Homo sapiens: one gene and its partners. The protein of the gene in region 1 purifies or fractionates together with the protein of each later gene. This does not show direct contact. Each region holds a gene or a part of one and is shown in the gene's direction. Other genes may lie near its edges.

The links.
Region 2: the proteins of S1PR4 (region 1) and FIRRM purify together in Homo sapiens (co-immunoprecipitation; 2 studies listed by BioGRID and IntAct, with this or other methods). This does not show direct contact.
Region 3: the proteins of S1PR4 (region 1) and TBC1D24 purify together in Homo sapiens (affinity purification with mass spectrometry; 2 studies listed by BioGRID and IntAct, with this or other methods). This does not show direct contact.
Region 4: the proteins of S1PR4 (region 1) and LEMD3 purify together in Homo sapiens (co-immunoprecipitation; 2 studies listed by BioGRID and IntAct, with this or other methods). This does not show direct contact.

Annotation. Positions count from the first base shown.
Region 1 is NC_000019.10:3,174,327-3,180,846, forward strand, and holds S1PR4 (sphingosine 1-phosphate receptor 4 precursor), read left to right. Parts: upstream 1-4,442; 5' UTR 4,443-4,466; coding exon 4,467-5,621; 3' UTR 5,622-6,006; downstream 6,007-6,520. UniProt on the Homo sapiens protein: Receptor for the lysosphingolipid sphingosine 1-phosphate (S1P). S1P is a bioactive lysophospholipid that elicits diverse physiological effect on most types of cells and tissues. May be involved in cell migration processes that are specific for lymphocytes.
Region 2 is NC_000001.11:169,847,016-169,854,042, forward strand, and holds part of FIRRM (FIGNL1-interacting regulator of recombination and mitosis), read left to right. Parts: intron 1-674; coding exon 675-788; intron 789-2,484; coding exon 2,485-2,589; intron 2,590-2,615; exon of another isoform or gene 2,616-3,249; coding exon 3,250-3,330; exon of another isoform or gene 3,331-3,422; coding exon of another isoform or gene 3,423-3,491; exon of another isoform or gene 3,492-4,801; coding exon 4,802-4,921; coding exon of another isoform or gene 4,922-5,038; exon of another isoform or gene 5,039-5,774; coding exon 5,775-5,972; 3' UTR 5,973-6,697; coding exon of another isoform or gene 6,698-6,757; 3' UTR 6,758-7,027. Other genes in the region: SCYL3 (protein-associating with the carboxyl-terminal domain of ezrin), read right to left, coding at 6,698-6,757. UniProt on the Homo sapiens protein: Regulates PLK1 kinase activity at kinetochores and promotes faithful chromosome segregation in prometaphase by bridging kinase and phosphatase activities.
Region 3 is NC_000016.10:2,499,108-2,506,134, forward strand, and holds the end of TBC1D24 (TBC1 domain family member 24), read left to right. Parts: intron 1-249; coding exon 250-313; intron 314-727; coding exon 728-823; intron 824-1,160; coding exon 1,161-1,383; intron 1,384-1,696; coding exon 1,697-1,851; 3' UTR 1,852-6,623; downstream 6,624-7,027. UniProt on the Homo sapiens protein: May act as a GTPase-activating protein for Rab family protein(s). Involved in neuronal projections development, probably through a negative modulation of ARF6 function. Involved in the regulation of synaptic vesicle trafficking.
Region 4 is NC_000012.12:65,235,571-65,242,597, forward strand, and holds part of LEMD3 (inner nuclear membrane protein Man1), read left to right. Parts: intron 1-2,931; coding exon 2,932-3,011; intron 3,012-3,098; coding exon 3,099-3,244; intron 3,245-4,358; coding exon 4,359-4,460; intron 4,461-4,565; coding exon 4,566-4,668; intron 4,669-5,338; coding exon 5,339-5,517; intron 5,518-7,027.

The DNA of each region.
Region 1 (6,520 bases):
CTCATGGGATGCCCGTGCCCCGCATGGGACGCCTGAATTCTCATGGGACACCTGTGCCCTCATGGGACACCTGTGTTCTCATGGGACGCCTGTGTTCTCATGGGACACCTGTGCCCTCATGGGACGCCTGTGTTCTCATGGGACGCCTGTGCCCTCATGGGACGCCTGTGTTCTCATGGGACGCCTGTGCCCTCATGGGACGCCTGTGCCCTCATGGGACGCCTGTGTTCTCATGGGACGCCTGTGCCCCTCATGGGACGCCTGTGCCCTCATGGGACGCCTGTGTTCTCATGGGACGCCTGTGCCCCTCATGGGACGCCTGTGTTCTCATGGGACGCCTGTGCCCTCATGGGACGCCTGTGCCCTCATGGGACGCCTGTGCCCTCATGGGACGCCTGTGTTCTCATGGGACGCCTGTGCCCTCATGGGACGCCTGTGCCCTCATGGGACGCCTGTGTTCTCATGGGACGCCTGTGCCCTCATGGGACGCCTGTGCCCTCATGGGACGCCTGTGTTCTCATGGGACGCCTGTGTTCTCATGGGACGCCTGTGCCCCTCATGGGACGCCTGTGTTCTCATGGGACGCCTGTGCCCTCATGGGACGCCTGTGTTCTCATGGGACGCCTGTGCCCCTCATGGGACGCCTGTGTTCTCATGGGACGCCTGTGCCCCTCATGGGACACCTGTGCCCTCATGGGACGCCTGTGCCCTCATGGGACGCCTGTGTTCTCATGGGACGCCTGTGCCCCTCATGGGACGCCTGTGCCCTCATGGGACGCCTGTGTTCTCATGGGACGCCTGTGCCCCTCATGGGACACCTGTGTTCTCATGGGACGCCTGTGCCCTCATGGGACGCCTGTGTTCTCATGGGACGCCTGTGCCCCTCATGGGACACCTGTGTTCTCATGGGACGCCTGTGCCCTCATGGGACGCCTGTGTTCTCATGGGACGCCTGTGCCCCTCATGGGACACCTGTGTTCTCACGGGACGCCTGTGCCCTCATGGGACGCCTGTGTTCTCATGGGACGCCTGTGCCCCTCATGGGACGCCTGTGTTCTCATGGGACGCCTGTGCCCCTCATGGGACACCTGTGCCCTCATGGGACGCCTGTGCCCTCATGGGACGCCTGCGTTCTCATGGGACGCCTGCATTCTCATGGGACGCCTGTGCCCTCATGGGACACCTGTGTTCTCATGGGACACCTGTGTTCTCATGGGATGCCTGTGCCCTCATGGGATGCCTGTACCCCTCATGGGACGCCTGTGTTCTCATGGGATGCCTGTACCCTCATGGGACGCCTGTACCCCTCATGGGACATCTGTGCTCTCATGGGATGCCTGTGCCCCTCATGGGATGCCTGTGCCCTCATGGGACGCCTGCATTCTCATGGGACACCTGTGCCCTCATGGGATGCCTGTACCCTCATGGGACGCCTGTGCCCCTCATGGGATGCCTGTGTTCTCATGGGATGCCTGTGCCCCTCATGGGACGCCTGCATTCTCATGGGACACCTGTGCCCTCATGGGATGCCTGTACCCTTCATGGGACGCCTGTGTGTGGTTGCCATGATTACTACCTGAGACTGTCACTACGACAGTTACTATTGTTACTACTTGAGACCATCATTACAAGACTGAACGAAGGGACGAATGTAGAAATGAAAACTTAAGACAGAAGAAACTGTTTTAAAGGAAGGGACCAGGGGAAGAAAAAGAGAGCTCCCTGCTTCTAGTGAGCAAAGGCAGCCCCCCAAGCTTCTACAGCCCTTCGTACTTATTGGGTAGAAAGCAGGGGGAGGAAACGATTGGCCAGCTGCTTGATTGTTCACACGTTCACGTTATTGCTAACAGGTTTCAGATTTGCCTACTTGCAAGAAACACTTGTGCCTGGGGCGTGACTGCCCTCAGCATTCCTTCTGGGCGGCAGACGCAGTTTGTCAGTTTGCCAACAGCCTGCTTTCATGAGAACAGTTTGCTGTTTACTCACGTAGCCTCCAGTGGTATACTGAGTTGATCACAACCCTCATTCTTTCGGCCTTCAACACCTGAGCCCTCACGGGACATCTGTGCCCCTCATGGGACACCTGTGTCCTCGCAGTACACTTGTGACCCTTCCAGGACACCTTACTGGTAGAATTAGTGTAGCTGCCCCCACCCTGAGGCCAAGGACACCATTGTCTCAGGAAGGCTGAAGACCACAGGCTCCTGGGGGGACAGAGGGCAGGTGGGGCCCCTCAGGACCCTCCTTGGTGGTAAGTGGGCCTGGCCTGGGGGTGATTGCAGGCGGGAGGAGGCTCCCAGCAGGGACTTATCCTGGGTCCTACTCACACTTCTGGGGCCTGCATTATTTCCCAAATCACCCCACACCCCAAGGCCTTCTGGATGGGGACGAGTGGGGGGTCACAGACACTGGGGGAGCTGGAGAGCAGAGACCTCACACTCCATCCGTGACAGATGATGTCCAAGCCCCTACATGCCCCAGACCCCAGGGCAAGGCTGAGCCTCCCTCCTCAGACCCCAGGGCAAGGCTGAGCATCCCCACTCAGACCTCAGGGTAGGGCCTCGCCTCCTCCCTTGGACCCCAGGACAGGGCCTCACCTCTCCCCTCAGACCCCAAGGCAGGGCCTCGCCTCCCCCCTCAGACTCAGGACAGGGCCATGCCTCCCCACTCAGACCCCAAGGCAAGGCCAACCCTCACCCCTAGACCCCAGGCAGGTTCAAGCCTCCCCGCTCAAACCTCAGGGCAGGGCATACCTCCCTCCTCAGACCCAGGGCAGGGTGTGTCTCCCCTCTCAGACCACAGCACAGGGCCTCGCATCCCTCCTCAGACCCCAGGACAAGGCTGAGCCTCTCCGCTCAGACCCCAGGGTAAGGTCATGCCTCCCCTCTCAGAACCTAGGGCAAGGCCAACCCTCCCCCCTCAGACCCCAGGCAGGTCCAAGCTTCCCCCTCAGACGCCAGGGCAGAGCCTGCCTCCCTCCTCAGACGCCAGAGCAGGGTGTGTCTCCCACTTAGACCCACAGCCACCTCACCTCAGGCTGAGTCACCGTGAGCCGTTGTCAGCAGGGCCATGGGGATGGGGTGAGCAAGTCCCTACTTTTCCTATGCACCTCAATCCCAGTGGGGGGCTGCCCCAGGGGGCCAGCAGCTCTGCTCCCAGCAGGGTGAGCTCAGGGGCAGGAGAGGCAACCATGAATCCCAAAATGGGCGCCTGGCCCCGAGACCCTACCAGCTTGTCCCTGGGGGTCTCTCTCCCTGGACCTGTGTGTCCTCCCATGGGCAGAAAGTTGGCCTCAGGCCGCCTTTGTGGGCCTCAGTTTTCCCTTCTGTAACGCATCAGGCTCTCTGGGCCTCAGTTTCCCCTTCTGCAACGCATCGGGCTCTCTGGGCCTCAGTTTCCCCTTCTGCAACGCATCGGGCTCTCTGGGCCTCAGTTTCCCCTTCTGCAACGCATCGGGCTCTCTGGGCCTCAGTTTCCCCTTCTGCAACGCCTCGGGCTCTCTGGGCCTCAGTTTCCCCTTCTGCAACGCATCGGGCTCTCTGGGCCTCAGTTTCCCCTTCTGCAACGCCTCGGGCTCTCTGGGCCTCAGTTTCCCCTTCTGCAACGCCTCGGGCTCTCTGGGCCTCAGTTTCCCCTTCTGCAACGCATCGGGCTCTCTGGGCCTCAGTTTCCCCTTCTGCAACGCATCGGGCTCTCTGGGCCTCAGTTTCCCCTTCTGCAACGCATCGGGCTCTCTGGGCCTCAGTTTCCCCTTCTGCAACGCCTCGGGCTCTCTGGGCCTCAGTTTCCCCTTCTGCAACGCCTCGGGCTCTCTGGGCCTCAGTTTCCCCTTCTGCAACGCATCGGGCTCTCTGGGCCTCAGTTTCCCCTTCTGCAACGCATCGGGCTCTCTGGGCCTCAGTTTCCCCTTCTGCAACGCACCGGGCTCTCTGGGCCTCAGTTTCCTCTTCTGTAACGCATCAGGCCCTGTTTCGGGGATCAAGTCGGATGAGTCAGTGCTCAAGGGCATGCAGGCACTTGACATTTATTAGGCACCTGCTGTGTGCTGAGCGCCGGTGGAGCATGTGGGGAGACCTCAGTGGAGCCGACGGGTGCTTCGGGGGTGATCAGGGCTGGTGGGGAGGAGTCGTCCGGCTGGAAAGGGGTGGCCCATCCCGAGTGGGGACTCATTTCCCCTCCGTGACTGACGGCTCCGGGGCTCCCTGCGGGTCTCCGGCTTTCGAGGACAGGAAGAAGGCAGCCAGGGCAGGGGTGGGGGTCCTCACAGCCAGGGCAGCCCCAGCGCGTTGGCTCCAGGAGCCCGGGTGGGGGCCGACCGTTGGGGTGCCCCTCCCTGTCCTCGGCCTTACCTCCACCCTGGAGGGCACCTTGAACATAACAGGAAATTTCAAATAACAGGAAACCAAGACCAGCAAGGCGGGTGGCTCCACCCTGCGTCGGGCCTCAGTCAGCCCCCGGGGGAGGCCATGAACGCCACGGGGACCCCGGTGGCCCCCGAGTCCTGCCAACAGCTGGCGGCCGGCGGGCACAGCCGGCTCATTGTTCTGCACTACAACCACTCGGGCCGGCTGGCCGGGCGCGGGGGGCCGGAGGATGGCGGCCTGGGGGCCCTGCGGGGGCTGTCGGTGGCCGCCAGCTGCCTGGTGGTGCTGGAGAACTTGCTGGTGCTGGCGGCCATCACCAGCCACATGCGGTCGCGACGCTGGGTCTACTATTGCCTGGTGAACATCACGCTGAGTGACCTGCTCACGGGCGCGGCCTACCTGGCCAACGTGCTGCTGTCGGGGGCCCGCACCTTCCGTCTGGCGCCCGCCCAGTGGTTCCTACGGGAGGGCCTGCTCTTCACCGCCCTGGCCGCCTCCACCTTCAGCCTGCTCTTCACTGCAGGGGAGCGCTTTGCCACCATGGTGCGGCCGGTGGCCGAGAGCGGGGCCACCAAGACCAGCCGCGTCTACGGCTTCATCGGCCTCTGCTGGCTGCTGGCCGCGCTGCTGGGGATGCTGCCTTTGCTGGGCTGGAACTGCCTGTGCGCCTTTGACCGCTGCTCCAGCCTTCTGCCCCTCTACTCCAAGCGCTACATCCTCTTCTGCCTGGTGATCTTCGCCGGCGTCCTGGCCACCATCATGGGCCTCTATGGGGCCATCTTCCGCCTGGTGCAGGCCAGCGGGCAGAAGGCCCCACGCCCAGCGGCCCGCCGCAAGGCCCGCCGCCTGCTGAAGACGGTGCTGATGATCCTGCTGGCCTTCCTGGTGTGCTGGGGCCCACTCTTCGGGCTGCTGCTGGCCGACGTCTTTGGCTCCAACCTCTGGGCCCAGGAGTACCTGCGGGGCATGGACTGGATCCTGGCCCTGGCCGTCCTCAACTCGGCGGTCAACCCCATCATCTACTCCTTCCGCAGCAGGGAGGTGTGCAGAGCCGTGCTCAGCTTCCTCTGCTGCGGGTGTCTCCGGCTGGGCATGCGAGGGCCCGGGGACTGCCTGGCCCGGGCCGTCGAGGCTCACTCCGGAGCTTCCACCACCGACAGCTCTCTGAGGCCAAGGGACAGCTTTCGCGGCTCCCGCTCGCTCAGCTTTCGGATGCGGGAGCCCCTGTCCAGCATCTCCAGCGTGCGGAGCATCTGAAGTTGCAGTCTTGCGTGTGGATGGTGCAGCCACCGGGTGCGTGCCAGGCAGGCCCTCCTGGGGTACAGGAAGCTGTGTGCACGCAGCCTCGCCTGTATGGGGAGCAGGGAACGGGACAGGCCCCCATGGTCTTCCCGGTGGCCTCTCGGGGCTTCTGACGCCAAATGGGCTTCCCATGGTCACCCTGGACAAGGAGGCAACCACCCCACCTCCCCGTAGGAGCAGAGAGCACCCTGGTGTGGGGGCGAGTGGGTTCCCCACAACCCCGCTTCTGTGTGATTCTGGGGAAGTCCCGGCCCCTCTCTGGGCCTCAGTAGGGCTCCCAGGCTGCAAGGGGTGGACTGTGGGATGCATGCCCTGGCAACATTGAAGTTCGATCATGGTACGTGATGTTGCGGCCTCTTATTCCCTGGTGCGTGCATGCGTGGGGGCCGTGGCTCAGGGGGGCTGTGGATCTAGGGGCAGCCGGGTGTGTCTTTGCTAGAGAGGGCCACGGGCCAGTGCCCTGTGAGGGTGGAGTGTGTGTGTGTGTGTGTGTGTGTGTGTGTGTGTGTGGACAACCTCTGGGCGTTGCGGGAAGTGGGGGTGACAATGACAGTTAATGCCGCCTCTTCTTGTTCACTTCCCCTTTAGAAATGGCAGGGCCCATGCCCCATCTCTGGCCTCTGCATCTTTTGGGGACCCACTCTCTGGGGCTGGCAGAGGCACCACCTTGGCTTCCTGGGCTGGGGGAATCTTCCCTCACATCCCCTTCAGCATGAACGGCCTCGGCTTTCCCGGTGGGTAAAACAGTTTAATCACTGAAGCCGAAGCACAGGGTTGATTGTACACGCTCCCCGCCAGCCACAGGGGCTGACAACTGCCTGCCCCGTGAAACTCCAGTGGAGACGTTTCAGCTC
Region 2 (7,027 bases), on another chromosome or scaffold:
CAGGGAATAGGGAAGCCCAAGGAGAGGGGGAGAGACTGGTGACCTACCTGTTGGTAGAACAGTCACAACACACAATTTATTATATTTGCCATCTTATAGGGGCACAGTTTGTGGTGCTCCAAAACAATGACAATAGTAACATCAAAGATCACAAATCAGCGTAATAAAATCCTAATGAACAAGTTGAAATATTGCAGGAATTACCAATCTGTGACAGCCATGAAGTGAACACATGCTGTTGCAGAAATGGTACAGGTAGACTTGTTCAGTACAGAGTTGCCACACACCTTATATTTCTAAAAAAAAAAAAAAAAAAAAAAAAAAAGCAGTATCTTCAAATTGCAATAAATCAAAGCACAATAAAATACTGTTTGTACAAAATATGTTTTAAAGGTTTGGTATATAAAGTTTTTCAGAAACATGTATACTTTTATTTTTTACGTGGTTGGAGGCAGGAGGGTGTGGTAAGAATAATGCTTTAACTGTTAACTTGTTCATAGGATTGTCTTATTTAAATTCTACCAGTGAAGTTCAGGGGCTGTGGTGTGTTTGTTTTTTTCTGGGTTTGGTTTTGTTTCCCCTCCCCACATTTCCATCCAAATCTTAGGCAGTTATTGTGTCTGTACAAAATACTGGTATTATTTATAACTGTTCTTTGGTCTTCACCTCTGTAGGCAGTAACTTTGCAGACCTCGCTACTTAAATTAGAGCTTCCTGACTATGTTCGTTTGGCAATGTTGGATTTTGTATCTTCTTTAGGAAAACTTTTTATACCTGAAGCTATCCAGGTAATATTGCTTAACTCTGTTCTTGTATTATTAAAACAAAATCTCTATAAGAGTTAGTGATTAAGGGATTTTTAGGCTTTTTCTGAAATTTTGCAATTACTGACAAAGTTGGAAAAAAAAAACTATGTTCCAGACAGATTATAAAATCTATTTATAACTTATAATACAACTCATTTTAAGTTCTTTTCTTTTAGAAAAATATATGTTGATACACAAATAATTAGTTGGCTGTAGTCTACCATATTAGATTCTTATTCCAGTTGGGTTCTAATACATAGTTCCTGTGTATTTGTCTTATAGGGAACAGCATGTAATTAGGAAATTTGGTAATTTATTAAAGTTATTCTCTTCGTTTTTTATCCATGAAAGAGAACCTGTTTTTAAAGACGATATTTTTGAAAGTGTTGCAAAATATGTATAGCTGACAAATAGATTATTTATAAAATTATACTGCACTGGCCTGGCAATACACATCTACTGAATTTTAAAACCTCAGTAAATGTATATTACCAGGCCAGTACATAATTTAAAGAACTTACAGCAAAGAGATCTTCATAAATTGAGAATTACGCCTTCCTTATTACTATAGTCAAAATTTAGTAATTCTAGTAATTGACACTTCAATCTCCAAGGGAGAGACTATAAAGAGTTCACTAATGAGAACTTTCTTACATAATTAAAGCAAACACATTATAGACAGTATCTCAGAACATGTAGATTAAACTCTTTGAAACCAAAAATTTAATTTCTAAGGGGCTCTTTTATTTGTTCATAAGTTAACAGTATCCCATCTGTCTCCATCATGTTAAGGTTTTATTTCATGAGATAAGCATAGAATGTTGACAGCTTTTCAGCTCTCTTGACAAAAATATCCAAAGACACTTGGCATCTGAGCTGTCTTCTTTTTACCATGAAATAAATCTATTCCAAAATGCTGCTTCATTTGTGAACCACTATGGACTATGCACGGGCCTAGAAATTATGAAACAAATGTTTTATAAGCAGAAATCGCAGTGCCTTCTGTATTCCCAGGAGTGAGGTCAAGACCTGAAGAAATTTTTGAGATTCATCAGAACATAGGAGGCATTTAAAGCCATGAAATGAGATTGACTGATTTATCCATTCGGGAAAGATTACGTTTTTGCTGTACCCAGTGCTGTTTTAATCATTGGCAATGCAGTAATGAACCAAACTAATAAATCCCCACTGTTAGCCTGTTTAGAGGCAATAAACAATAACAACATGATGATATGTGCAGTATATTAAATGGTGGTGAGTGCTATGGAGAAAAATAAAGCAGGGAAGGAAGATAGGGAATATGAATGTGGGGGTCCAATTTGAAATGGGATATATAGTTAGTGAAGTCCTCACCAAGGTGACATGCAAGTAAAAACCTGAAATGCAAAGCACTGGAGATGGGAGCATGCCTCATATTCAGGGAAGCAAGTATAGCTAACACAAAGGTAGCAGGACTTTGCAGGTCATTTGAGGACTTTGGCTTTCACTAACAAGGGAAATAGGGAGCTACTGGAAGGATTTGAGTAAAAGAGTGACATTACCTAATATGTTTTAGTGTGTGTCCCCTGGGACAGGATTATGTTAACTTGACAACACTGGGCTTATTGAATGTATGGCTATTTTATGATTATCTATTATGGTTTCTTTTCTCTATTATAATAAGGCTTGGTTCTTTTAGGACAGAATTCTGCCCAACCTGTCCTGTATGTTTGCCTTACTGCTAGCTGACAGGAGTTGGCTGCTAGAACAACATACCTTGGAGGCGTTTACTCAGTTCGCTGAGGTAATTATAAAACTGATTTATCACAGTGACTTTCAAACCATTTTAATATTTCAAATATTCCAGAACAATCCCAAAACATTTATTGAACTGCTTCTGTATTGCAATCGGAAAATTGTCTGAAGGGTACATTACTCGTTATCTCTTTTACAGCTTCTCAAAATGAGGCTTAGATAAATGAAGTGAATTTCGTAAGGTCCTCTGAATAAACAAGGACCAGAACAGGCATACACAGCAGGCCTACTGATACAGACAGACACAGACACAGTCTTCCAGCAGATAGTATTTTTGGGTCAAATGATAATACATTTCATTTTGTGCTATCAGTCATAAGGGTTAGGCTGATGAACCTAAACCTGTAAGATGGGTTGCTCCTTTACTCTTACTGCATTTGCTGTATAGTCATGCCTATGATCATAAGGGAGTCCAGAAGCATTAGTATGACCCAGCAGAAGTAATTAAAGCTTACAACACTTGTACAGAAGTTAATTTTGTATTATCCTTAGGGACCCTGAAGGAATCATGAGTTTATCACCTTTGAGGATCCTCTGGGACTCTTACTTAAAATGAATTTTTGGTTAAGGTAGCTCATAAAACTCATCTATTTGTCTTTGCAAGTTGTTGAAATGTTAAAATTGGTCTTGTTCATCAATTTTTTAATAGGGAACAAATCATGAAGAGATAGTTCCACAGTGTCTCAGTTCTGAAGAAACTAAGAACAAAGTTGTATCCTTTCTGGAGAAGGTACTTTCTTTACATGGCTCATGTTTTATTCTTTGTCCTATTTTTTTTTTTCCGAAATTATGTAACTGTAACCAACCTGAGTGTCTTCTTAGCTTAAACTTTTCACAGTGCTGAGCACAGTGCTGACGACTTTTACTAAGCAATTGAGGCCACAGAAGTAAAACACTTGGGGCCAGGCGCGGCGGCTCATGCCTGTAATCCCAGCACTTTGGGAGGCCAAGGTGGGTGGATCATGAGGTCAGGAGTTCAAGACCAGCCTGGCCAACATGGGGAAACCCTGTTTCTACTAAAAATACAAAAATTAGCCGGGCATGGTGGTACGCGCCTGCAGTCCCAGCTACTCGGGAGGCTGAGGCAGGAGAATTGCTTGAACTGGGGAGGTAGAGATTGCAGTAAGCCAAGATCATGCCACTGCACTCCAGCCTGAGCGACAGAGTGAGACTGTCTCAAAAAAGGACACTTGTAGTTCCTCTGCCTGTAGTTTGGGGTGTAATAGCACTGATTATCCAGGCAGTGAGATGACTAATGAGGATCCCTAAGCTATTAATAATCATAATTAAATACACTTGATCACATAATTAGGTAGGCCTGAGAGGATGTTTACTACCATATTTTGGGTATAATTTAGGCATGGCTTTTTTTTTTTTTTTTTTTTTTTTTTATTTGGGCAGCCTCCCAAGCCAGGGTAAGCTCAGGGCCCTTTTTTTTTTTTTTTTTTTTTTTTTTTTGGCATGGCTTTTTTATTCTCTTTGCAGCCAAGACCTGTTTTTACAATTAAAACCAAAATTTTGAATCACAAGGTTCCTATGTCTATGCATACTTGGGAACTTAGTGTGAGGAAATAATAGTTAATTGAAATACTAGTGGAACTGTTAAACCACAAATTTAGACTACCAGGAGAAACTGAATTATTTGATATATTACATGTAATGATGCACGTTATATATTTTACATATATTACATATATATTTTTTTAGGTGAAATGGGCCCACTTGACTCACTGAACTTTATTTTTTAGACAGAGTCTCGCTCTGTCGCCCAGATTGGAGTGTGGTGGTGTGATCATAGCTCGCTATAACCTCAAACTCCTGGGCTCAAGCATTCCTCCCACCAAAGTCCTGGGATTAGAGGCATGAGCCACCACACTTGGCCTACTTATATTACATCTAAGCTGGATTTTAAGTACATGTGTATACACTGCTGTTGCCAGTTTCTTAGCTTATACAGTAAAGGTTAGCAGACTATCATTTTTTCCTGCAAAGACAACTCTATAACTAACTATTTTGTAAGGAAGAACACAGTAGAGTGATTTAATCCAGATTATACTAAGAGTATTTATAGATCAGTCCATGTGACTTCCAGAATTTGCCTAGTATGGTTGAACACTCAGCACTTAAATTATGTGGCCATTTCATATCTAGTAGAGTGCTAACATGTTGCTATTTGCTTGGTTTTTCATGGTCCCTGGCAGACTGGGTTTGTAGATGAAACTGAAGCTGCCAAAGTGGAACGTGTGAAACAGGAAAAAGGTATTTTCTGGGAACCCTTTGCTAATGTGACTGTAGAAGAAGCAAAGAGGTCATCTTTACAGGTATGGGCTGATTTCAATAGGGGCCAAACTTTAACAAGGCAAATTCTGCCCTTTTTACTTACTGACGAAACAAACCAGTGTGGTTTCCAGCCTTATGCTGAATTTCAAATCAAATAGATCTAGACATGTAAAATTCTGTTTTATGGTAGTTGCTTTTAAAATTAAGAAGTGGGACTACACCATATCAAATATATTCTTTCAGTATGTTTGAATTATTGGTAGTAACCTTTAAGGGAAGTTACATATTGTACCAGTGATGCTATAAATGCAGTCTTTACTGAACCACAGAAGAAAATGAAAGAAACTTACTCCTAAATGTTTAGTTTGATTCCTTGCCTTATTAATCAAATGAGTCTCCTAATAATTTTTGGCAGTAACTGAAGATCACATCTACTTATTAAAAGGCAGAATTTGACACCAATAAGGATATTCAAAATATTGTTTTGAGCACTATTAGTATAGTAATTAGTATAGTAGTAATTCATGAAGAACAACATTCTGATAAGTTTTAGTCAAACTCTCATAAAAAGAAAATACATTTATGAACTTGTTTATAAGACATGTAAGCTTGGACTATGCAGCACTTCTCATTGGGAGCCCTTTGGGACAGGATACTTGTTGTATACCACATACAAACTAAGACACTGGTAGTAGCACTCTGAATTGCTATGATAAACCAAAATGCCTTTACATATTTTTCTAGATGACTGTGTAGGGGTTTTGGGGTGCATCCTCCTACCCTTGTGATCCAATGACTAGAATAAAATTTGCATGTAAGCTTTACTCCAGTCCAAAAGGAAGGTTCTTTATATTTAGAATGGATATTGTGATATTACTTATGTTTTTTTTCCAGCCTTATGCAAAAAGAGCTCGTCAGGAGTTCCCCTGGGAAGAAGAGTACAGGTCAGCGCTGCATACAATAGCAGGGGCTTTGGAAGCAACTGAGTCACTACTCCAAAAGGGTCCTGCTCCAGCCTGGCTTTCAATGGAAATGGAGGCGCTCCAAGAAAGGATGGATAAGCTAAAACGTTACATACATACTCTAGGGTGAAACTTATCACTAGGCAGAACTGGGTTTGATGCTTTGTCAACTGAAAATACTTATGTCTGTACATTTTCTAACAGATATAAAACAAATTTTGTAAAGTTGAATCTAGTGAAAATAATCTTTATTTGACATTTAGAGAACAGGATTGTGGGGAATATTCTTATTAAGAACTTTGGTACAATGTACTACATGTGGAACAGTCAGGAACTGCCTAGGTCCACAAAGAACCATTTACTCAGATAGTCTAACTGTAAACAAATAAATAAGCTGCCTAAGGAAACCTCAGCAATTTAAAATCATTTATATAATTTATAGCTAAAATTTTTTAAAGTTGTATTTCATAATAGAGCTTACTCTTATGTTAAAGAATGGCACAAAATTAAGCTAACCAGCTTGAATTACATTTTCTTTACTTCCAGAATTGTCCTGGAAAAAGCAGTAAATTCGACCTCTCCTCAGCTACTTGCTCTTCATAGAAACTGGCCTCAGTCAAATGCACAAAGGCTCTTCCTCCTGGAAACCAGTACTGTGAGCCTCACCACCCAGGGCTTTTAGCCAGCACTCACAGTCAGTCTCCTACTTCAGTTGGCACAGACTGGATAATGAGCTCCTGGGATGGGAAAAGCAGGCCACTTTGGGGTTTTCTTGTCCCAAAGCCTGCTTTTGAGGTATTGATTTTTTTTAAAAAAAGGGAATCCTTTTTCCTAAAGTTTAACTCACATCTATTGTCACCAGTTATTATCTTCCCAGTTCAGCTCCCCTTCTTCTTCCCAGCCTTCAGCCTCTCCCTGCAACAAAATAAAGCACACCAAGAACCCACTGAAACAAATCATATGCAAAAATCATACGCAAATTTGAAAAAGCAGGAATTTAAAATTTATCTTTTGATGCCAGAAACACTACCTCGTACTAAGTAAAATAACTTAGAGCTCTAACAGAAAGTTGAAAAGTAGGATTACAAAACCATGGCACTGGAAAATAGCTTTTCAAAAACCATAAAATCCAGTAAAAATCAGTGTGGATGACACCAAATCCTTATTTTAATCCCTTTTTTTTCT
Region 3 (7,027 bases), on another chromosome or scaffold:
GCTTGGCTCTGCACTGGGGCCTTCCACTGCAAGGCCTCTCCCCTGAGTCACACCAGGGCAGGCTGTCCTGGGGATGGCAGAGAAGGGCCAGGTGAGAAGAACACCTGGGTGAGGGTGTTGTCGGGACCCAGAGAGAAGGAAGCACAGTTCCCAGGTCTTCGCCCCAAGACAGCTGGGGCCAGCGGAGGCTGCAGGAGGCGGCTGGGAGGGTGTGCAGGGTGACAGCTGGCATGCGTGTCTCTACGCCAGGTTCTACTTCCAGTGTGAAGGACATGAGCCTACCCTCTTGCTCATCAAGACCACGCAGAAGGAGGTGAGCAGGGGCCCTGGAGCCAGGGCTGGCTCTGATGGGCTCCAGGGCTGGCTCTGATGGGCTCCAGGGCTGGCTCTGATGGGCTTCAGGGCCTAGGCCTCCTGGGCCAGATCCAGAGTCAGAGCGTGGGTATGGCCAGCACATGGGGCTCATCCCACACTCAGGGCCACAAGGGGAAATGAGACTATCCCCAACACAGCCCCCGCCCACCCTCATTGCCAGCCCCAAGCCAGGGGCAGGGTGCACACACCTGCAACACTGCCTTTCCCACACCACTCCTGCCCTGGGGTGGGGGTGGGAGACGGCAATGCCTGCACCCCCACCTGTGACCTGGGACAGGCCCGTCAGTAGTCTGGAGCACAGGGACGCTCCTGGGGGCCTGCGGGCACAGCCTCACCCAGACCTTTCCCCCAGGTGTGTGGTGCTTACCTGTCCACAGACTGGAGTGAGAGAAATAAGTTTGGAGGCAAACTGGGCTTCTTTGGGACCGGAGAATGCTTTGTGTTTAGGGTGAGTGGGGCCAAGTGTCCCCAAACCCCCACGCAGACCCTGTAGCTGCATCCCTCCAGGAGCACCCGCCTGCCCTGGGGACACTGTTGGGTGTCGCCATGGCAGTCACCCAGCAGCGTCATCGCCCTGTGTGCTTCCGGGTTTGATCATTCAGCCGTGCGCTGCTCCGGGGCAGGGGGCTTCATCTGCTCGAGCCACCAGCTCCCCAGCCCCTGGCTCGGGCTGCACCCACCTTGGGCTCTGGGTGCAGATTCACGGGATGAAACGGGTTGTGGCTCTGGGGCAGAGGGGCCTGCGAACGCCCGCGCCAGCTCCTCACACTCCCCTTCCACCCCAGCTGCAGCCTGAGGTGCAGCGCTACGAGTGGGTGGTGATCAAGCACCCCGAGCTGACCAAGCCCCCACCCTTGATGGCTGCCGAGCCCACCGCCCCACTCAGCCACTCCGCCTCCTCAGACCCCGCTGACCGCCTCTCGCCCTTCCTGGCCGCTCGCCACTTCAACCTGCCCTCCAAGACCGAGTCCATGTTCATGGCGGGGGGCAGCGACTGCCTCATCGTCGGTGAGCGCCAGCAGACGGGGCTCTGGGATGAGGGTGTGGGGTCCGGGCAGCTGAAGCTGCTGCACCCAGCCCTCCCTGACCGGGGTGGCAGAGAAGAGGCCCTGGGTGTCAGGGTGGACCAGGCATGATGGGTGGGAGGGGGCTGGAAGGGAGAGACCAGCCTGGACAGCTGGTCCTGGGGGCTATGGAGGGTCAACGGTCTGTGCGGTTTCAGAGAGGCCCGTGCAGGGCAGGACAGCTGGGACAGCAGGTGAGGTGCCTGGGTCAGTGCTGATAGGGCAGTCAGGCCGCCACTGACCTGAGCATCCTGCAGGGGGAGGAGGCGGCCAGGCGCTCTACATCGATGGGGACCTGAACCGGGGCCGCACAAGCCACTGCGACACCTTCAACAACCAGCCCCTCTGCTCCGAGAACTTCCTCATTGCTGCCGTGGAGGCCTGGGGCTTCCAGGACCCTGACACCCAGTGACGGCCTGTGCCACGGTGACTGAGCCGTGGTGGGGCGGTGGGCCGAGGCTGGGCTGCCGCCTCGGGCAGCAGAGAGCAGATGAAACCCCCATGTGGTAGGCAGGGTTGGGGGACGGCAGGACCCCATGGCCAAGCCTGGCGTTGCCTGGACCTGCTGCTGCCTCTACCTGGGGTTTGGGCTGGGCTTCCCCAGTCCACCTGCATCTGGGTCAGAGCTGGAGGGCCTGCTGTGCCCCCAGCCCCACCCAGAGCTGGCATAGGAAGTACCTTCCTCCTCCGTGGAGGCTTCCATAGCCCAAGGCCTTGGGAGTGTCTGGGTCTTGCTGCCCCTGAGCCTCTCTAGGCAGCCTGAGCCCCTGGGGTGGGAGTACAACGGCAGTGGGAACGTGCAGCTAAGGGTGGGCCTGTGGTGCCCCCTGCTGGTGCCGCATAGCATCGCGCCCTCCTGAGCAGGGCCCTGCAGCCTGGCTGGCTGGCGACTGAATCCCAGCGTAGATCCCGAGAACAGACTGGCACCCTTGGGCCTGCCCCCTGGCGGACCCCACCCCCTGTCCTGGGCGTTTGCCCCAGTTCCCTCCCCAGGCCTCCTGGGCCACCTCTCACATTAACCCTTCTTGGCTGCCTCTGAGGCTCCCCTGGGCTGCGTTTGGGAGCTGCTGGGTGGGAGGAGGAGGGTGGGATTTGTGCTGGGCTCCACCCCCAGGGAGGGTGGGAGCTGGAGGGGGATGTCACATGTCCTTGTGTTTCTGCAGAGCCTGAAGCTTTTGCTGGGCCTCCCTGCGTGTTCCCATCTGAAGAGGTAGCCCCGGGAGAGGCCCTCAGGGACCGACCCAGACCAGCAAGCTCCATTTCCAGGGGTCTGCCCAGAGAAGCCTGGACCCAGGGGGCTTCTCAGCTCCCCTCCCTTCCAGCCCAGGCCTCCTTGAGCTCCTGTAGCCTCTGCAGCTGCCCATTTCACCTCTTTGTCATTGCAATGACCTGGGGCCCAGGGTCACGCCCAAGCCCCTCTTTGTGGCATGCTCATCTCAGTGCAGCCCCAACTGCTTCTCTGCACCAGGCCCCGTGCCCTCCCCTGGCCCTGGCCACACAGCACCTCCTTGGCCACCTTGCATGGATGCATGTCCTCCCTCTGTCCCTCTTGTGGTGCTGTGGCTGGCCACGTGTCAGGGTTTTCTGTGAGCCTCTCACCTTACAGCCTTTGGGCCCCTGGGCCCCTGCCCTGCCTGAGCCCTGCGCTGGCCAGACGCAGGTAGGTGCCAGGGGAGGCCTTGCCTCTGGGCACTATAGGGGGCAGCCCCCTGCCTTGTGACCTCCCTCCATGCCCCATGACCTCCTTCAACTCGTCTTGAGGGTCTGGTCACCACGGAGGGGAGAAGGGAGACACAGAGGCCCAAGTGGCTGTTCTGGGACCATGGAAGCCTGGGTCACAGAGGCAGGTACCAGCAGTCCTGCCCCCACCCCCGTCCCTGCTGGCCTCCAGCCAGTGCCACTTGGAGTCCCCTGCACCGTGCCACTTTCCATCCCCACACCATTGCCTGCTCCTCCCATGGGGCTTTAGCCTCCCCTGACCATCTGCTCATGTAGCCTCTGACTGGGCGCACAGTGGTGCAGGAGGAAGGACCGGGAACCCTGTGTGGCTTTGGGCAAGCTGACAAACCCGTCTGGAACTCAGTTTCCCCAGCTGTGAAATGGGGCCAGTCCCCATGCCCTGCTGTCCTCCTCACAGGACTGTTGAGAGGCTCGCAGGGGGATGGGGTGAATCCCTCTCACGGGGAGAGGTATGGGAGGGAAGTCGCCACTCATCTCAGCCCACCGCAGCCCTCCAGGCCCCCGCCTGAGCCCCTGAGGCCCTCATCTGTACCGCCAGCTTTGGTGTTCATTAAACATGGTCTTGCTGCATCAACTCCAGGGCTCCAAGCTGAGTCTGATCTCTTCAGCCAGAGGGGCCTCCGGGGGCTTCCTGGGCCTACAGCCAAGCAGGTGTGGGAGGCTGCCCGCTGTAGTGCTCACCCACATTCTATGACTGGAATGCTGCAAGCCTCTTCCAGAGGGAGCCCTCCAGGAGCAGGGAAGTCATATCCGTGGACCATTTGTAGGTTTCCCTCTGCAAACTTCCTGAACTGGGTGGTGATTTTTCTGGCGAGTTAAGTCCAGCAGGTTCTGCGTGGCTGCCCCCAGGGGGCCCCACCCGGGCCTTCCAGTGATCTGGACCAGGAAGACGGATTGCTGCTGGGTCATGATTTCCACATCATGAGCGAAGTTCTTTGTTTTTTGTGTGCATGCAAAATATTGTTTCTTTAAATTTAATATCTTTTCCTAACTTTTCTACTAACCTAGAAGGTATGTGTGATTATTATCTTTTTTATTCTTATCACTGTACTTGTTAGTATCTGATATTAGGTATTCCCAAATAGAACATAATTTATTTTGTTAATGTTCTCTATTTCTTCTTGATTATTTATTAGCTTTGGATGTTAAAAATTAGCCAAAAGTGGCTGCTCTGCCTATGAAGTAGCCATTCTTTGTTTAAAAAAAAAAAAAGCCAACATTTGTTGAAACTGCATAATAAATTATCATTTGTTTTTAGAAACATTCAAAGAATTATTTTTTGATTTTTTTTTTTTTTGGGACAGAGTCACCCAGGCTGGAGTGCAGTGGCATGATCTTGGCTCACTGCAACCTCCGCCTCCTGGGTTCAAGCGATTCTCCTGCCTCAGCCTCCTGAGTAGCTGGGATTACAGGCATACGCCACCACGCCCAGCTAAATTTTTTTTGTATTTTTAGTAGAGGCAGGGTTTCACTGTGTTGGTCAGGCTGGTCTTGAACTCCTGACCTCGTGATCCACCCCCCCCTCAGCCTCCCAAAGTGCTGGGATTACAGGCGTGAGCCACCGCGCCTAGCCTATTTTTTAATTTTTTTGAATAGACCACTTTGTGCTGAATAAATGTTTAACATTTATTTTTAAAACAACAATTGCACCTAATTTAAAATAGTTTATTAAATGAATTCATTAAAGCAGATTATATGCCTTTGGGGCTTCAGAAAATCAGTTTAAGCAAAAGAACTTATGAGAGTAAGTCATTTGTACTTGAATTTTTTCAGAGTTTTAATGAACTAAAGTATTTTAATTTTTCTATTTTTGTAAGCCGCATACTTCATTTTTTGAGTTTTTCAGTGGAATTTGTTTTAAAACGTTTTGAAGATTTCAGAGGCCTTCATATTTCTCTTATCCACTTTCTGAACCCATAAAGCCTTTGCAGTCTCCTTGAGTAGTTTATATTTAGTAATTTAGTTGTGTACCTTTTTATTTTGAAGTAATTTTTGATTTGCAGAAGAGTTGCAGAGACGGTACAGGGTTTCCATGTACCCTCACCTTCCCCCAAGTCAATATCAAAACAAAGAAATAAGCATTGTTGCATTGCTGTTAACTAAACCACAGGCCTATTGAGATTGTCCCTTTTTTTTTTTTTTTTTTTTTTGAGACAGAGTCTCGCTCTGTCGCCCAGGCTGGAGTGCAGTGGCGCGATCTCGGCTCACCGCAAGCCCCGCCTCCCGGATTCACGCCATTCTCCTGCCTCAGCCTCCTGAGTAGCTGGGACTACAGGCACCTGCTACCACACCCGGCTAATTTTTTTATATTTTTAGTAGAGATGGGGTTTCACCGTGTTAGCCAGGATGGTCTTGATCTCCTGACCTCGTGATCTGCCCTCCTCGGCCTCCCAAAGTGCTGGGATTACAGGCGTGAGCAACCGCGCCCAGCCGAGATTGCCCCGTTTTTTTCCCACTGTCCAGGAATCGATTTAATTTTTACAGTTGTTTACTTTCTCACATTTTTACTAAGTCCAGAATATCATCAAACTCACAAAACCACTGGTCAAAAAAACCCAAATGGCCACTAATTAGGCAATACAGCACCTGCCTCAAATTTGGGTTCATATAGATTTTTTTCCTCCCTTTTTGTGGAGAACATAGTCTTGCTGTGTTGCCCAGGCTAGTCTTGAACTCCTGGACTCAAGCAATCCTCCCGCCTCTGCCTCCCTAAATTCTGGGATTACAGGCGTGAGCTGCTGTGCCCAGCTCATCCAGATTCTTGCTGGTTCTCTTTCTCAGCCTAAATGTCTTGTTTGCGTGGAGAAATTATCAAATGAAGCAGGAGTGCCAAACAAGCCTCATAGGCTCTTCACCCTACAACATCTATGTTAGGTAGAAAAGTATGTGGATTTTTAAAAATCATCTGGTATAAAGAGTTTTTAAGAACTATCTTCATCATCTTAGTATCAGATTGTGCTTGAGAAGTTAGGTACAATGTAATGTGATTCATTGCTAAAAACAAAATGCCTCCCACAATTGCAGACTCACTCATTTTACCAAACTATGGAATTTGTCAACACCTTTTCTTGGGACCAAGGAAGCAAAGTCAGTGGATACCGTGTCCTGTAGACATGTCACTTGTGATAAGGCACGGACAACATGAACTGGCAAAAACATTGGCATTTGGTCAAATGCTTATGAGCTAAGGATAGAAGGGAAAAAATAGTTGTGTGAATGATTTTACCTCTTAGTTCTTACGAAGGATGGTTATCGGGCTGGAAAAATGTTTATTGGACTGATGCTTTGGAGCCTCTCAATGAATGTAATAAAAAAAATGTGTAGTGAGCACAAATGTATGGATTTGCAGCACAATCCAACTTTGAAAATGTGAAAATAAGTGAGTTAGTGATATGTTTGGTTGGTGTTAATTTGAGTCCTAAATAAAATCGAGAACTGGTAAAAGAAGGTCACTGTGAAATAACTTGCTATGAGAAGGCTTAGAGGGATGGGAAGTCCTGGACGCCTCTTCTCCAGGGTGTTGGAGGAGAGAGGGAGGCGCTAGGTTGACAAGACCGCATCTGCGCATTGTGGTCACCAGCGAGTCTCTCCACTGAGGCGACAGGTACATGTCTGTCGCATTTGCAGCCGTGGCCGGTGAGAACGGCAGCATTCCCTGATCCGTCTTGTTTTCTTTTGTTCCTAGTGCCTGCTGTGTGGACAGCTACACTCAGCAAAGTCTTAGGGAGACTTAGAGGAGTCACCATGAAGAATCAGTGTCAGACGTTTCATCAGGAATCCCTGTCAAGGCCGGGTGTGGTGGCTCACACCCGTAATCCCAAGACTTTAGGAGGCTGAGGTGGGTGGAT
Region 4 (7,027 bases), on another chromosome or scaffold:
CTATCTATATTCATTTATATTAGGTGTTATAAGTAATCTAGAAATGATTTAAAGTATAAAGAATGATGTGCATAGGTTATATGCAAATACTATGCAATTTTATATCAGGGACTTGAACATCTGTGGATTTTGGTATCCATGGGGCATCCTGGAACCAATCCTCTGTGAATACTGAGGTATGACTGTATATATAAATTAAATGTTGTAGTTTTATTTTTTTAAGCAGATAGCTGTTTAGCTCTCATCATGATTATTTCTAAGTTCATAATATCCATTGAAATGATCTCATATATAAACCTTTTTTCAATCATTAAATACATTGTCTGCAATTTTTTTGATGTTTGTAAATGCTATAATAAACACCCAAGCTTAAAAAAACAGATGGCCTATAGTTATCTTCACCATCTTAAAAATCCTAATAGTAGTTTCATGTAATGATGCCTAACAAGATTAGTTCTGCTTTATAAAACTTTTTATTACATTTGCAAATTTGATACATTAGAATAACTTACCAGTTTTATATTAGGAAGTAAACTATACTGATCAAATGAAAACCTTATAATTTCCAATGCTGTTGAAGAATCTGTTGATAAAATACAATAGGACACTTCTTAGAAAAATCTTTTTTTTAGAGAGAATTTGAAATGACTTTTTATTTCTGTTTTTAGAAATTCATTTTTTCCTCTACGAGCCAGGCACAGTGGCTCATGCCTGTAATCCTAGCACTTTGGGAGGCCAAGGCAGGCGGATCACTTGAGGCCAGCAGTTCGACACCAGCCTGGCCAACATGGCGAAACCCCATCTCTACTACTACTAAAAATACAGTGATTAGCTGGGTGTGGTGGCACACGCCTGTAGTATCACAGTTACTTGGGAGGCTGAGGCACAAGACTGTGCTTGAGCCCTGGAGATGGAGGTTGCAGTGAGGCGAGTTCGCACCACTGCACTCCAGCCTGGGTGACAGAGCAAGACTCTGTCTCAAAAAAAAAAAAAATTCATTTTTTGCTCAAAAGGGACATAAAGACATACTAATAATACAAGCTCCATGAACACAGGGAATTTTTCACTGTGTTGTTTATGCTGCACCTCTAGTTTCTAAAATAGTACTTGGCACATGGTAAAGGTGTTTATAACAGTATTATATTTGATAAATTTTTAAAAATTGGACATATTCTAAATGTTCATTAATAAGGTGTTGATTAAAAGTATAGAATAATCATACAATGGAATACTATTTTGTTGAAAAAAATAGGGTTTTTTCCATGTAAACTGACATTGACACAATATTTTGTTCCATGAAGAAAACAAGTAGAACAGTAGTATGTGTAATATGATACCACATTTATTTTTACTATTTTAATTTAAAAATACTCTACCCACACATAGCAGTTCTTAAGCTTTTTGGTTCCCTATAATTACTGAGGACTCTGGCTTTTGTTTGTGGGAGATATACATTTATATGTTTTTGTTTCTATTAGAAAGATATATTTACTTTCTAATGGTAAATATGTATTACAAATACATGTTTATATTAAAAATTAAAACTGAAAAAAATTTATGTATTTAGAATAAGAAAAATGAATCTATTATATGTTAACGTAATGTATTTTTATGAAAAATAACTTTTCCAGAATGAAAACATTCAATGAGAACAGTGGCATTGTTATATATTTTATAAATCTCTTAAATGTGTAGCTTAATAAAAGGTGACTGGATTCTTATCTGCTTCTTTATTCAATCTGTCATGATGTTTTAGTTGAAGTATGTCATGAAAATCCAGCCTCACATTGATATGTAGTCAAAACATTGGAAAGTATTTTAGTTGCCTTTTCAGGTAATTGTAGATAGATATTTTCTTTGATACCATACCAAACCTCTATAAGTAGTAGTTTCTTAAATGTTAGTTGCAATGTGGAATGTCAGACTGTGCCAGTGAACTTTTTGTACTCTTGTCTCATAAAATCCTTTTATTTTGTACTTTGAATGGATCTTTTACCTATGCGTGATTGGTTTTTATAAAAATCAGAATTTTTCAAATGCATTGGTCATTTTCAGATGCATTGGTCACATTTCATTATTCCATATCAAAAAACTGCATTTGTTAATGTCACACAAATCTCATTGGAAAGGTCTTCAAGTATTGTGAAGTTGTCCAGGTCACAAAGATGAATGCTAGTTTTTCAAAATTCTACTTTTTACTTGAATGCTCAAATCTTATAATTGGTAACCCGGTCAGTTTTTCTTTAGTTGATAGGCTTACTGCTTTTATGTGTTGAGAATACTTGTCTGTGAAACATCCAAATCTGGAAGAGTTTGCCATTTATTTGTTCATCTATAAATAATATTGCATTTTTAAAAGTGGTAAATTCACTCTTATGATGGCACTGATAAACTAATGATAAAAAAAGAACTTCCAAGCCAGGCGCAGTGGCTCATGACTGTAATCCCAGCACTTTGGGAGTCCAAGGCTGGCGGATCACTTGAGGTCAGGAGTTTAAGTCCAGCCTGGCCAGCATGGTGAAACCTCGTCTCTCTAAAAGTACGAAAAAAGAAAATTAGCTGGGCCTGGTAGCTGATGCTTGTAATCCCAACTACTTGGGAGGCTGAGGCAGGAGAATTGCTTGAACCCAGGAGGCGGGGGCTGCAGTGAGCCAAAATTGTCCCACTGCACTCCAGCCTGAGTGAGAGAGACTCAGTTCCCAAATATGTAAAATATAAAAAAGCAAAATATTAACACTGATTATATTGGAGTAGTGGGAAAATGCTAACTTTTTTTTTCTTTTTTCTCATTCTTTTTAAAATTTTCTGTAATGAATATTTTATGTTATGTAGTTAAAATAAAAATGTTATATAGAGTGTGTTATAAAGGATACTTTACAGAGAGTCGAATGTAGATTAAGAATAGTTATTTTTCTCTATTTTTCTTGTTAGGATTTAGGTCCTGAATATGAAGGTATATTTAACACTTCATTGCAGTGGATCTTAGAAAATGGAAAAGATGTTGGAATAAGGTAAAGGATCTGATTTCCACTTTGACCATTCTGTACTGGGAGAAATGGTTTTTGACTTTAAATTCTACCTTACTTATTTTTAAATAGGTGTGTTGGTTTTGGCCCTGAGGAAGAATTGACAAATATAACTGATGTGCAGTTTTTACAGTCCACAAGACCACTGATGTCTTTTTGGTGTCGTTTTCGACGTGCTTTTGTTACTGTAACTCACAGATTATTGTTGTTATGCTTAGGTAAGTTGTAAAGATAAGAAATGAGATAAATTGCAGCCTGAATTTTTGTGTGTATTTCACTAAATGCCAGAGTTGAGAATTCATTTTTGTGATGGTTGCCACATAAGTCACAGCTAGATGTCTTCACTAAATATAATAAAAATAATGTCAGAATCATTCTAAAGGCTTAGAAAGCAGTAATATAAGGAGAGGTAGAAATAAAACTTTGTTATAAGACTGTCACAGAAAAACAAGTGTGGTCAGTATATACATAGAAATCTACTTTAGAAAGTAGAATTGAAAAATACAAAAATTGAGCTTATTTTTAAATAATAAAGTGTTATAAAGTTTATTAAAATTTAGTTTTTAAAATGTAATTTACCTACATTTAAAATTTTTATCATTTTTTAATTGATAATAGGGATTTAGGTGAGAGTTGTTTTTTCATTCTTTCTTTCTTCTTTAAAAATAATTCATTTTGGCCAGCTTTAGTGGCTCACACCTGTAATCCCAGCACTTTGGGAGGCAGGAGGATTGCTTGCACTCAGGAGTTTAAGACCAGCCTGGGAAGCATAGACCCTACCTCTACAAAAAAATTTTTAAAATTAGACAGGCATAGTGGCACGTGCCTGTAGTCCCAGCTACTTGGGAAGCTGAGGTAGGAGGATTTCTTGAGCCCAGGAGTTGGAGGCTGCAGTTAGCCATGATTGCACTACTGCCCTCCAGCCTGGATGACAGAGTAAGACCCTATCTCAAAAACAACAACAACAAAAGAAAAATTCATTTTACTTAAAGTAAGATTTAGTATGTTTAATCTCATGAGGTTCACTTTTCTAGTCGTTTTATGCTTCAAAGGAAAAAAGTTTGTGAAACATAGTTATATATATATATTTTTAAATAGTAGTTAGAATTTAAATGTTCACTTATCAGTGTAATGGAAGAAATGCTTTTTTCTAGAAAGTGAATCTTTGGAAAATGTTCAGTATTAAATTTTTTTATGTAGTTTTAATTATATAGCTAATTCAGCCATCTGTCTTGAAGGTTCATTCCGTTGTGGCAGTTAAAATAATCACTGAAATATTATTGAATGATATTGACCACAATTTTTAAAATACAAAGTATATTAATATTACAGGTGTAGTGATGGTTTGTGTCGTTCTGCGTTACATGAAATATCGATGGACAAAAGAAGAGGAGGAAACAAGGCAGATGTATGATATGGTGGTAAAGATTATAGGTATGATATTTGTAAGAATCTCAACTATTTCTAGAAGAGTCATTGCATGATTAAACTACATTATGTCAAGTGATTGATTCATTTGTAAATTTTATTTATTTTTAGATGTTTTACGAAGTCATAATGAAGCCTGCCAGGAAAACAAAGATTTACAACCTTACATGCCTATTCCACATGTACGCGATTCCTTAATACAGCCTCATGACAGGTGTGTTCAAAGCATTATGAGTTCAAGTAAATCAGAAAATTTAAGTGCTTTCTGCAGTATTGAAAATTATATTGAGAGCTGTGACCCTTCTCAACTAGACTTGCTTACTGCACAGGTTTTTTTTGGTTTTGCTTTGTTTTTGTACTTTATACTCTCTTTCTAAATTCTCTTCCATTCTCCTGATTTTGAGTGACACCTGGATTTCTAAGTCATTCTCATTCCTAGGCATTCTTGATTCTTTGTTGTTAGTCTCCATCTTATTTCCTTTAATTTCATCTTGATAAAGAAATAGATGACAGCCAGTGGCTGGTGTTTTACTAATGTTTTTTAAGTACTAACTTTATTATTAATGAAGCTTTTAAAGTAAAAACTAAAATGCAACTTTTTGAAAATAAAAGATAATTCCATATCCTGAAGCAGCATCTTGACCCTAGCAACACATAAAGCCAGTGGAGCTTTTGGGGAAAAAAAATACAGATGTTTGTGCTCTAGCTCTGGAAATTGAAACTCAGAAAATCTGAGATGAGATATAGGCATCTAAATCTTCTTTGAACAAACTCCATGAGTAGTGGTAAGAACAGCTAGAGTTAACTATTACCTCAGATACTAATATTTCAAAAAGATGACAAGCCAAGATGATAGTAAATTTGCCATTTTGTTCACATGATAGGAAAAAAATGAAGAAAGTCTGGGATAGAGCTGTTGACTTCCTTGCTGCTAATGAGTCTAGAGTTCGCACGGAAACACGAAGAATAGGTGGTGCAGATTTTCTGGTTTGGCGGTGGATCCAGCCTTCTGCATCCTGTGACAAAATATTAGTTATACCTTCTAAAGTATGGCAAGGTCAAGGTATGTATTTTTAAACATCAAAAAAGTAATTTTCTTCTAATTTTTCAAAATGACAAATATGTGTTAAGTGAAACAGTACAATTCAAAGATGTATGAAGGCAAAACTCTCTCGTTCTGTTTCGTAGAAGGAATCAGTGTTAGCTTCTTATGTATCCTTCCACACTTTTATCTTTGCTAATGCAAACATAAATGGTTTATCTTTAATAAAGATGAATATTCCTTGAATCTTGCCTTTTTCACTTAATGAAGCAACTTAGTATTATATATATTAACTGCATTCTTTTCATCTAATTTCTTTATGTAAATAAGACACATAATTTATGTTATATATACAATAAAATATATATAAACTATATATGTATATAAGTGAAGTCATAACTTTTTAACTGCTCTTTTTTTTCCAGTTTTTGCCTGCCTCCTCTTACTAAGACCTTTCTATTTATATATTCCTCCTGCCAAGTAACTTTTGTGGGTATCTTTCCATATTTTTCTTAATGCCTACATAGTTTCAAAAACATGTATAAATAAGAAAGGGGTAAGTTTATAGGGGGTTTTGAAGATTGGCTGTCATATGTACCCAAACCTTTACTACACAGAAAAGCAGAAAACAATGCATCAGAAAATTATGACTTTTTCCCTATAAAAGTATGTCAGTATTTGCTAAACATAGTATTTGTGGAAAAGGTAAGTTGTTTTGGACATGCAATACAAAGTCCAGTCACTCCTTTTTTATTCTCCAATTAATTTTCACTTTGAAAAAGCTTGAATAAGAGGCTTCTTTAAACATGGCATAAAAGTGATGCTCTGTCAGGGTAAACAGCTAAAGCAGGCAGGGCTTAATACCTGGGTGATGGGTTTGAGTTGATAGGTGCAGCAAACCACTATGACACACGTTTACCTATGTAACAAATCTGCATGTCCTGTACATGTATCCCAGAACTTAAATTAAAAAAATGATGCTTTCATGTTGCCAATGATTATACTATTTCCTCTAAATGATGCATGCATTTCAGTTTCCCTATAAACTGAAAATAGAGAATTCCTTATTTTACTTGACCTCTTAACAGTGTTTGACAGTTCAGCCCTCCTTGAAACTTTCTTCACTGGGATTTGGGGATGCCACCTTCTTCTGTTTTTTTTCTCCTACCTCAGACTTTTTCTTCAGTCCTTTTCTAGATTATCCTCTTTTTCTTCACCTCTAGGTGTTAGAGTTTCTCAAGGCCATCTTTTTTTTCCCACTCTGCCATTTCTCCCTAGATAATCGTCTTGCTGTGACTTAATTTACCATATTGGGATAACTCCCAAATTTTTTATTTTGAATGAAGTCTGGTTTTCAGATTTTTGTACCCAACTATATATTTCTGTACTAGGAGGTGGGCACCACAGATTCAACATGTACACCAGCCTGATCCTCTTCAGTGTTCCTAGTCTAGTTAATGATACCTTTCCTGAGTTGATTCTGCCATAAACTTAGGGATAATTCTTAATCTCTCCTTTATCCCTCTTTGTC